Linked DNA regions of Homo sapiens: region 1 is linked to region 2. A link means that fine-mapping ties the variant in region 2 to the expression of a gene that starts in the linked region. Tissue or cell type: subcutaneous fat. Region 2 holds a variant in brackets; the other region holds the start of a gene. All regions are shown on one strand. Distances are from middle to middle.

Region 1 (5,147 bases), 300 kb after region 2:
CCTCCCAAAGAGCTGGGATTACGGCATGAGCCACTGTACACAGCCTTTTTTTTTTTTTTTTTTTTTTTTTTTTTTGAGACAGGGTCTTGCTCTGCTGTCACCTATCATAGCTCATCGTAACCTCAAACTCCTGGACTCAAGCAATTCTCTCACCTCAGCCCCCCAAGTAGCTGGGACTACAGGTGTGCCAGTAACATTTTGCCTTTTTGAAGAAAGGGATTTGTGAGTTTACCATTCCTCTTTTATTATTATTATTACTTTCTAACAGTGTTATTCCTTCTACATTTTTTGCTTGGCATCCTACTGTAAGAAAGTTTTCTTTTCTCTCCCATTTATTTATGTCAGTATGGACTCATGGATTCTTTCCTTTTTATTCAATGGGTTATAATCCATTACTATGATTATTTATTGTGATGCTCATAATTGGTCCTCAAGGGTACCTGCACTTCTACAGTATAGGTCACAAGAACACAGCCTTACATTTAAAATGAGCACAAAATACTTGCTTTCAGGGTCTCTCTGATTCAGATAGCTCTGTGAGCAAGGCAAACAATCATCTTTCCTGTAAACTGTTTGCTAAAAGGCTTCTCTGCTGGTACTGAGTATGGCGAGAACTCTAGGTTTTCTCACTCTAGGTCCCTTGTGCTTTCCACTCTATTCAGCAGTCTCCTTTAAGGACTGAAGGGTAAAACTTCAGGTAACAACTCCACAGTGGGAGGTCTTGTCCTTGGCAAGACTTCTCCAGAGTAGCCTACAGCCTATGTGTAAGGTAACCCTGGAGTCAAGTGCTGTTTGATACAGCATCAGCGTGAGGTTAGGTTATGCTGGTTTGAGCAAAGATGGGAGGCAGAGAGACACCCTGAATTTTATTACCCACAAGAATTATTCAGGATGAGTTTTTCCCCCCTTCCAAATTACCCAAGTCTTTTTTTATACAGAAAGACAAAAAAAGTAGCTTGAGTCTATAATTCCTTCCCTACAATTTCCCTTATTTTTAATGTGCAAGTAACTAAAAAAGCAAGATCACAGAAGGGTTTATAACAAAAAGCCAAAGTCCCCAGCCTCAAATCACTCCTCCTCTTAGGAAAACTTTTTTTTTTTGTTTGGTTTTTGAGACGCAGTTTTTGCCCAGGCTGGAGTGCAATGGCGCAATCTCGGCTCACTGCAACTTCCACCTCCCGGGTTTCAAGCAATTCTCCTGCCTCAGCCTTCCAAGTAGTTGGGATTACAGGCATGCGCCACCACGCCCAGCTAATTTTGTATTTTTAGTAGAGATGGGGTTTCTCCATGTTGGTCAGGCTGGCCTCGAACTCTCGACCTCAGGTGATCCGCCCGCCTCGGCCTCCCAAAATGCTGGGATTACAGGCGTGAGCCACCGTGTCCAGCCTCGGAAAACTCTTAATTGCTTCCCATTTTTAGTTCTGGCAGCTCTCTCCATATTTGTGGAAACTATTCATTGGATTATCAATGTAAGGTATTATCTGTCGACTCACTTCTAAAATAGATCAGGATTTAACACTCCTCTCCACCTCTTCCCTCTCTCTGAATTTCTAACAGTTTATTACCTCATGTTCTAGAGATAATCTTTCAATTGTATACTTAAACCTCGATTTTTTTTTGTTTCGTTGCTCAAAGTTAGTTAGATATTGGCCCTGTTGTCTTCCATCAGCTGCACCTTTACCTTTACGTCAAGGTTGAGAACATTGACCTTCAGGTCTGTCATCCTGCTTAAGAGTTTCCGTGCTTTGTCTGCAAGATGGTGCTTAAAGCTTTACCTAGGAGCAGTATTTGCTGGGTTATGTCGGTGGAGGACAGCGTGCTCTGCCTCGCTGGCTACTAAGTGCTGGAGCTGCAGCCTGTCCCCTCCAGGTGCAATGTCACGTCCCCAGATGCTTAACTTGTGGTCTAGGGGTACCTTTTAAAAATCGTTGCAACACTGCTTACAATTTTCGCCCTCCAAGTGGACAGCTTCGGGCATCCCTCACCGCCCCAGATTCTCAAGGGGGTCTGGTGCCCACCGTTTTATGTAGCGTGAGTTTAATTCCCAGGGCTCAGATGTCAAGGAGACAAGAGCTACCGCTCAGTGGGCGTTTTCTCAACCCAAACTCCCGATCGACCTCGAGTCTCCCCGCCGGACCCGGAGCAAATCTCAGAGTCAAGATGCGAGAAGGGGTGGCCGGGCGGCGGACCTCAGGCTTCCGGCACCCTTGCGCTTCCCGCCGGCACGAAGGACTCCCCTGGACAACCGCCCGCCTCTCAGAGGCCGGAGTCCTAGGCCCTCCGGCCTGCGTTGCCTGTCCACAGACGCGCCGGCCTCGGGACACCCACCACAGGGGTAAGACGCGCCTCTGCCAGCTCCCCAGCCCGAAACCCAGAACGCCCTCCTAGGAGCCTCACAGCGCAGATCAGGGGACGGGCTTTCGGCCGCACCCCTTCACTCTTTCCCCGCCTTCTTTGTTTATTCCGGACCCACCATTGGCTGCTTGCCCTCGATACCGGGCGAGCCGCCGGTCTTTGGAGAGAGGCGATTGGACGAAGTCCCTGCCGCTCGGCCAGCAGCCCGCTCGCGATTGGTTGAGGCGCCGCCGGGGGTTTGAATCGCATCCCCGGCCGGGGAGGGTTCTGCCAAAGTGCCACGTTGGGCCCGGCGGCGGCGTGAAGACTGGCGGCTGCGTGAGACTCCGGCTCCAGGCGTTCGCACCGTAATGCCCGGCCGTTGGGGCCGTCGGTAGGCGCGAGGCGAGTCGAGGCAGCCGGCCGGTCGGCGGCCGCCGGCGGGAACGGGGCTGAGGCGGCGCAGCGGAGTCTGGGCGGCGGCGCGTCCCGCCCGAGGGCGGCTCTGGCTGAGGGCGGAGGGGCCGGGGAAGAGCCCGGGGCAGCGGCTGAGGCGGGACGGCGGCGGGGGCCGCTGCCCCTAGAAGACCCAGCCGAGATGCTGGCGGAAAACCTGGTAGAGGAGTTTGAGATGAAGGAGGACGAGCCGTGGTACGACCACCAGGACCTCCAGCAAGGTGAGGGCGGGGGCGCCCCGCGGGCGGGCGGCGGCCTGGCCCGGGAGGCCCCCGCTGCGAAACTGTTAAAAAGTTGCTTTTTGTGGCGGCGGAGGATGCAGGTGCCGGGAAGGGCTCAGGCTCACCTGGCGGCTGGGCCGGCCGTGCCCGCGGATCCCGCCCGCAGGAAGCCTCGGCACGGGGCCCACGGCCTTGCTAATGCGCAGTTGAATATCAGCCCCGAGGCGCGTGGGGGCCAGGGACGAGCCAGGCACCGTTTTAAGCGCTTTCCGTGGATTAGCTAGTTTAATCCTCACTGCATTCCTCCGAGGCAGACCCGGGTGAGCCAGTGTGTCCCGCAGTAAGTGGCATAGCCCGAGAAGCCGCCCCGTCGCAGGCTGTCTAGCCCAGCGCCTTTCATGGCCAGCGTGGAGGGCCGGCTGCTGCAGGTGGTAGTTGTTTTGCGGCGTAGCGGGAGCTGTGCGCTCCGCACCGTAACTCCAGGAGACAGTAACTTTTTAAAAATTAATGTTTGAGGGTACATGGTAGGTGTATATATTTGTGGGGTACATGAGATGTTTGGATACAGGCACGCAGTGTGAAATAAGCACGTGATGGAGAACGGGGCGTCCATCCCAGCATTTATCCATTGAGGTACAAACAATCCAATTACACACTTTTGTTATCCCATTTTCCATATGAGGAAAGCGGAGATTAAAACGGTAAAGTGGCTTGCCTAAAGCTAAGTGTGGGAGGGAGTGTTTTTTGAACCCACACACTCAGAAGAAGAGTTGTAGTCACTGCTCAAACCCCATCTCTTCCTTACCATCCTAGTTTACAGTTTTTTTCAGTTGGGCGTTAAGCTGTTAGGCATAGTTCACCAGATGCCAATTGAAACGACAGAAGAAAGAGCGCATCTATCTCTGCCACTTTTCTTCAGTTTGCACGCCAGCTTTCACTTAGAAACAGGCCTGCCGATGGTGTCTCCAGAGAACAATCGTAGAGTAGCCCACTCTTTGGGGCCAGTGGGGCCCCTGTTTTTCTTATACTAATAGCAGGAGCTAGCAGTTGGGGAACACTTTTTATGTGCCTAACACTGATAGGCCCATAACACAGTTGCTCATTTAATTCTCCCAGTAACACAATAGAGGTAGTAATGTTGGGGAGTGCTAGGGTTCTCCTTAAGACTCCAGAGCAAACGTTCTTAACCGCTATACTGAGTACTGAACAATCCTCAGGAATTTTTCCAGGCATCTTCAGTTTCTGCAATTCTGTGTAAATGCTCTCAGCTCTAATCTTGCAATGAAAATTAACATCTCATTTAGTTGAATATTAAATGATCATGTTGCTTGTTCATGCTAACCACTGAACATGGCAGAAGAAAAGAATGTAGACCTGAATAACTCAGAAAAGGAAAATAAAATGAGCACCTCTTTTGGAGGAAGATAATTTCTTAAATTAACATGCAATCACTTTAACCAAAGTAATTCACCTTTATTACACTTACAGAGTCCAAGCTACTTAGTGGTTGCAGTGCAGTGTTTGGCACCATCTTCTTTATGTCCAAGAGACAAATTTATTATACATATTAACAAACCTGTTTTCAGATTTCCCCGTAAGGATTGATGGCCTAGTTTGATAGTTTCTCCAGGATTTGTGAGGCAACCACTGTACCACTGCAGTACTTCCCTATAATTTAATTTGTATCATCACAACTAAATATTTCTCTTTCCTGTATTTAAGAAGCATTAATCTTTAAGGGCATAGAGGGGGCAGGTTCTTTTTTCTTGTGTTTCCAGCATCTAGCATAATACTTGGCACATACTGGAAGCTCGATTTTAATATTTGTTGAACTGCACTGAAGCACTCGCACAGAATTGTTTTCATGGCTCTCTTCCATCAGGTGCCTTAGTCCACGCTGCATTCTCCCGCTGTGGGAGGTTGTTAGGAACAACAGCTGTAACACTTCAATCTACCGAGCAGCAAGTGCAACGTGTCAGGGTTACACGAGGAATTCTCTTTAACCTCTGATCAAAATAAAGTCATCAGCTCTTCAAGTTTAACCTTAAAAACACAGGTCTGGGCTGGGCGCAGTGACTCATGCCTGTAATCCTAGCACTTTGGGAGGCCGAGGCGGGCATATAACCTGAGGCCAGG
Region 2 (5,147 bases):
GGAACGAGCTCCATTAAAGAGCTAGGGATGGGTGGACACTTATCCCCTTTCCTGCTGCTCAGTGGAAGACAGGTGGCTCCTGTACAAAGTTAGGTTCCCCATTTTTTTTCTAGATCCCACCCTTTCATTTATTTCCTGCCCTGTTTGTTTTATTGTTTGTTTGTTTGTTTGAGACAAAGTCTTGCTTTGTCACTCAGGCTGGAGTGCAGTGGCACGATCTCAGCTCATCGTCACAACCTCTGCCTTCCGGATTCAAGCGATTCTCCTGCCTCAGCCTCCCAAGTAGCTGGGATTACAGGTGCGTGCCACTGCACCAGGCTAATTTTCTCTATTTTTAGTAGAGACGGGGTTTCACCATGTTGGTCAGGCTGGTCTTGAACTCCTGACCTCAGGCGATCTGTCCACTTTGGCCTCCCAAAGTGCTAGGATTACAGGTGTGAGCCACCGCACCTGGCCCCTCTTTGTTTTTAATAGTAATGGATGCCTCTTCACCACCACCATCCCCTCAGAGCTAGATACTCCCCACTAGCTACTGCCTCCTCCCTTCTCTTCTCAGCCAAGAGACTCAAGAGTAGTGTAGTCTATGCTCAGGGACTCCACTTCCATCCAGAACCTCCAGGAGTGCCATTCACATCATGCTCTGTGAGGGTGACATATCTGGAAACATAGCTCTGTGGAACACAGCAAGAGAGAAGCCCCAGGATTTGAGTTCTACCCACCCCTCCATCCACTGCTCTCTGGCTCTCATCACCGCACTGAGCCAGTTCTGAGTAGGGTCATAGAAAACACCATATTTGCCCAGCGAAATAGACATTTTGAGTAGTGATCTTACACAACCTCTGAGGACAGTGGCTCGGTCAATCCTTCTGTCCTTCTCCACCCTTGGCTCCCCTGACTCCACTCCCTTCTGCTTTTCCCTCTCTCTCTCTGACTGTGCCTCTATTTGTGCCTTAGTTCTTGACATTCATCTGAATTCCCTTCTTGGCTCTTCTTATCTTCTTTTTCCTCCCACTCTTTCTAAGTGATGAGGAGGTAGTGAAAGCTCAACACATGAACGGATTCCTAATCCAAATTGTTAGCACTCCTATCCATTTGAATTCTTAACTCTTTCTTGAATCCACCCTCCTCTTACTATCCCTACTGCAATTGCCCACACACATCCCACCCAGCTGCCAGTGTGGCTTTTCAGTGGAATGGGACTCTCTGTACCTTTCATCACTTGAATACTTCCTCAGCCTCACACCCAGACAGGACATCTTTCAACTGTATTAAATCAGAAATCATATCATATTTCATCAAATCTAAAACACTGTGCTGCAGCACTCTGTTGACCTTTCAAGAAGGTACCAAAGGGATATTTCCATGCAGCGTGGCTGCCAGCACTTATAAATGGATGAAAGTTATGCTGAGAGGGAATCAATAGTCATAAGACAGAGATTTGTTTGTCTTCTAAATGGTCTACTCCAAGAATGTGAGAATCCACCATGCAGTTCCCAGGACAAAATCAGGAATGGCTGTCATCTGGCATTGATTACAGAGGACTGGAGAAAGATGGATCTGGGATCATGGACAGGGAAGAAAGAAAGAAAGAGTAAGAGAAGGAGAGGCGAGAAAGAGAGAAAGGAAGGAAGGAAGGGAAAGAGAGAGAGAAGGAAGGAAGGAAGGAAGGAAAGAAAGAAAGAAAGAAAGAAAGAAAGAAAGAAAGAAAGAGAGAGAGAGAGAAAGAAAGAAAGAAAAGAAAGAAAGAAAGAGAAAGAAAGAAAGAAAAAAGAAAGAAAGAGAAAGAAAGAAAGGAGAGAAGGAGAGAGAGATAAGAAAATGTACTTCCTAGATCCCATCCAATGTGATTGTCTATGGACAATTGAGACCCACGAGGAAATATTTGATGCTACCCTTTTGATCCTGACGATACCAGGGATTGGCTTCGAATAACCCTGGTTCTTTCTGACAATGAACTGGGTCCTTTCAGATCTAATAGGTCATAAAGGCAATTTTACAAAAGTGAATTCAATCTCATTGTTAAACTATTAGAATAATTAAATACCCCCATTCCTTGTGACCTACAGGAGAAAGTCCAAAATGTGAAAGAGCATTATGTGGGTGGGGACTTAGAGAATATTGGAAATCTCCCAAACCCTCTAAATATATCCCTACTGCTTTGTTATTGCCAGGCAGCTTATAAACAGCAGTGACTGCAGAGGGAGGAGAGGTGGTGAGAGTGAAAGGCTGCCATGTGCATGGTGTCTGGCTCAGCCTGCCCAAGAGGCCAGCACCCCATCATTCCCCAATAAATCAGGAGGTCATTTTTCACTGAACTGAAGCTAAATACTCCCATCGTTTTCTCCCCTAACCAGTCCCAAGATTGCTCCGTGCTCTTTATTACCTTTCAATGACTTAAGCCCCTGAACTGAATAACTTCATCAAGGTGTCAACCTAAACAGATTTT[C/G]CCCATAATGGTCCAACTCTCACAGGTTCTTAATGAAAAATATTGATTTCTAAGGATTAGTTGCAGATTTATGTGTTGGGATGCTGATCTCTCTGTCACCTGACACCTTATCAGTATATGAAAAAACCTAGTTTCTCCTTCGTGGTTTTTAAAAAAAAAGCAATCACCGGCTGTGTCAAGGGGCAGCTTGGGTCCAGAAAAACAAATAAAATTCTCTGTCTGGATCCCATGGAATACTTAACAGCTAGTGGGGGTGTGGATGGGGAAGGCGCTGAGACACCTGTCTGCCTTCCTCACTAGCATCTTCACTGGTTGGGTTGTGGGGAGACCAGGTGCAGAGAAGCTGGAAAAGCAAATGGAACAAGCATCCATCCCTCTTGGTATGACAGATCTCCAAGACACAGTCTGGAGAAAAGCTTGTCGTGTACACCCTGTTTGGGGCTGGAGACACCAACTGGAAGAAATACAGCAGCTGCCATCTCAAAGTGGCATTCAATCAACACCAGGCTAGGTTGGCTCTGCCAACTCACTCTGTTAAACGTGGTTCTCAAGGGATGAAGTTAAGACTTTGGCACCTAAAACCTCAGCAAGTTGCAGAGCAGAGCAGAATCTCTCCCATACCCGGAAATGGCTGGAATGGAGTAAGATTCATTATTTATCTATTTGATAAATATTTATGGAGGGTCTATGTGCCAAGCACTATACTAGGCAATGGGGACGCCATAGTCAGCAAGGCCAGATGTGGGTTCCTGCCTTCATGGAGAAGGTGACCAACACACACACACACACACACACACACACACACACACACACACACACTCACACATACATGTAGAACTGCAACTTCAACACGATTCAGGAGAATGGGGACACAGGGCTGCAGCAGCCTGTAATGAGGGCATTTACCCAGTAAAAGACGTCAAGAGAGATTTGTCAGAGGAAGTGATGGTCAAGGTAACACCTGAAGGATGAGAAGGAGCTCACTGGAAAAGCAGGAAGAGTGGGGAGCATGTGGGCACAGGAAATAGTCTGTGGGAAAGCCCTGTTCCGGAGGAGCCCAGCACCACCAGTGTGGCCAGAGTGCAGAGAGAGCTGGTGGTAGGCATGACACAAGAGGGCTCCGGAGAAGTGGGCAGAGGCCAGATTGTGCTTTGGGTCACTATCCCAAGTGCAACAGGAAGCCATTGAAGGATTTTCAGATCCACACCTTGCAAGGATGACTTCGGTTGCTCGGTGGAGAATGGATTGCAACAGCCTCACCGTGAAAGCAGGAGGAAAGGGGCTGAGGAGGTGACTGCAGTGGTCCAGGCAAGAGATGAAGCAGTGATGCTGCTGGAGACGGAGAGAAGAGGACAGAATCCAGAAATATTTTGGAGAAGAAAAATCAAGAGTCATTGGTATGGAATCGAATGTGGGGTGGGGATAGGATGAAGGAAAGGAGGTGACAAGGATGACTCCCAGACTTTTGACTGAGCTGCTCCTTCTCTGCAGTGATGGCCTCCTCGTTTTGGGCCACTAAGGGCTTCTCCAACCACTGGGAAGCACTTCCAGAACAAGGTCCTCATTTCCTTTTCAGCTCTCACAGCAGGGACTGGCAAACTTCCATAAAGAACAACATAAAAAATATTTTAGATTTCAAAAGCTGTACCATCTTTGTCTCAATGACTCAACTCTGCTGCTATAAAGCAAAAGCAGCCACAAGTAATATGTAAACAAATTATTGTGGCTGTGTTCCAATAAAACTTTATTTAAAAAAAAACAAGTGATGGACAGGATTTGGCCCTCCAACTGCAGTTTGCAGACCCCTGCCCTAGAGGACTGGGAGGAATCTGGAAACTAAGCTGAACTCCTACATTCCCCAGGCCTGAAGAACTGGAGTATTCCATTGAAATAAGAGTACTTATTCCCAGGCCCGGAAGCCTGAGACCTTCCCCCAGAAATACAGCAGGGGGCCGAGGACTGTAGTGTACCCAAGACCCCACAAAAGACCTAGGGTCAATGGGAGAATCCCAGAGGTGTTACTAGGCTGATGAAATAGACCTCCAACTTCCCCTGGGCTTCCTCAGGTCCCCAACACCATCCAGAAAGGAAATTCAGCACAAATCTTTCATATACTCATACATACTCATCTGAACTTATAGCAGAATAAAAAATAAATAATAATAAAAAAAAACCAGAAGGGTATATAAGAAACAAGTAAGTGCTTACATATAAGCCTGAGGGTGAGAATGGGATGTGAATGAGACTGTCACGTGTATATATTTTTGCATCATGTTGAGTTCTGAACTACATGAATATATTACTCAAGTATTCTCTACTCAAAAAAATAGTAAATTTCTTCATAAAACGCACAGAAATGTATCTAGTTCTTGCCATTAGATTTTTTTTAACTATTGAAAAAGCTCTATATTTATCCTTGAAATTACACAGGGGGCCGATTTGAAGCACAGCTGCATTGCACATGAAACGGCAGTGTGTCCTGGTGACAAATTAATAGAAGTCCCTTTTTCTGGTTTGCTTCTCAGGTCTGCTCTCTCGTTACTAGTAGTCTACTTGCAGCTTCTCCTCTTGTTTTAAACAACTCCCCTTCCTCAGGCAACAGCACCCACCCTCACGCTGGGGAACCTCCCTCCCTCATTCAAAACTGTCGGGTGGGACTGTCAATCAAGAGGCTCTCTGCCTGCCCAGGCATGGTCATGTG

The links. PIP is the estimated chance that this variant, and not a neighbour inherited with it, causes the effect.
Region 1: CDR2 starts here. The variant in region 2 is fine-mapped to the expression of CDR2 in subcutaneous fat (GTEx, PIP above 0.99).

The regions. Positions count from the first base shown.
Region 1 is chr16:22,372,095-22,377,241 of GRCh38, reverse strand. It overlaps CDR2 (cerebellar degeneration related protein 2), which reads left to right and starts at 2,623. Exons shown (of 5, transcript NM_001802.2): 1 at 2,623-3,011. The coding sequence starts at 2,933. CDR2-DT (CDR2 divergent transcript) reads right to left here and starts at 2,355. Exons shown (of 3, transcript NR_148970.1): 1 at 2,019-2,355; 2 at 1,682-1,915. RefSeq lists enhancers at 1,851-1,900, 2,241-2,320 and a silencer at 2,861-3,090.
Region 2 is chr16:22,670,727-22,675,873 of GRCh38, reverse strand. No RefSeq gene overlaps it. Among named protein-coding and RNA genes, the nearest start is that of LINC02890, 60 kb to the right of the region's middle. The variant C/G (reference allele first, on the strand shown) is at 2,447.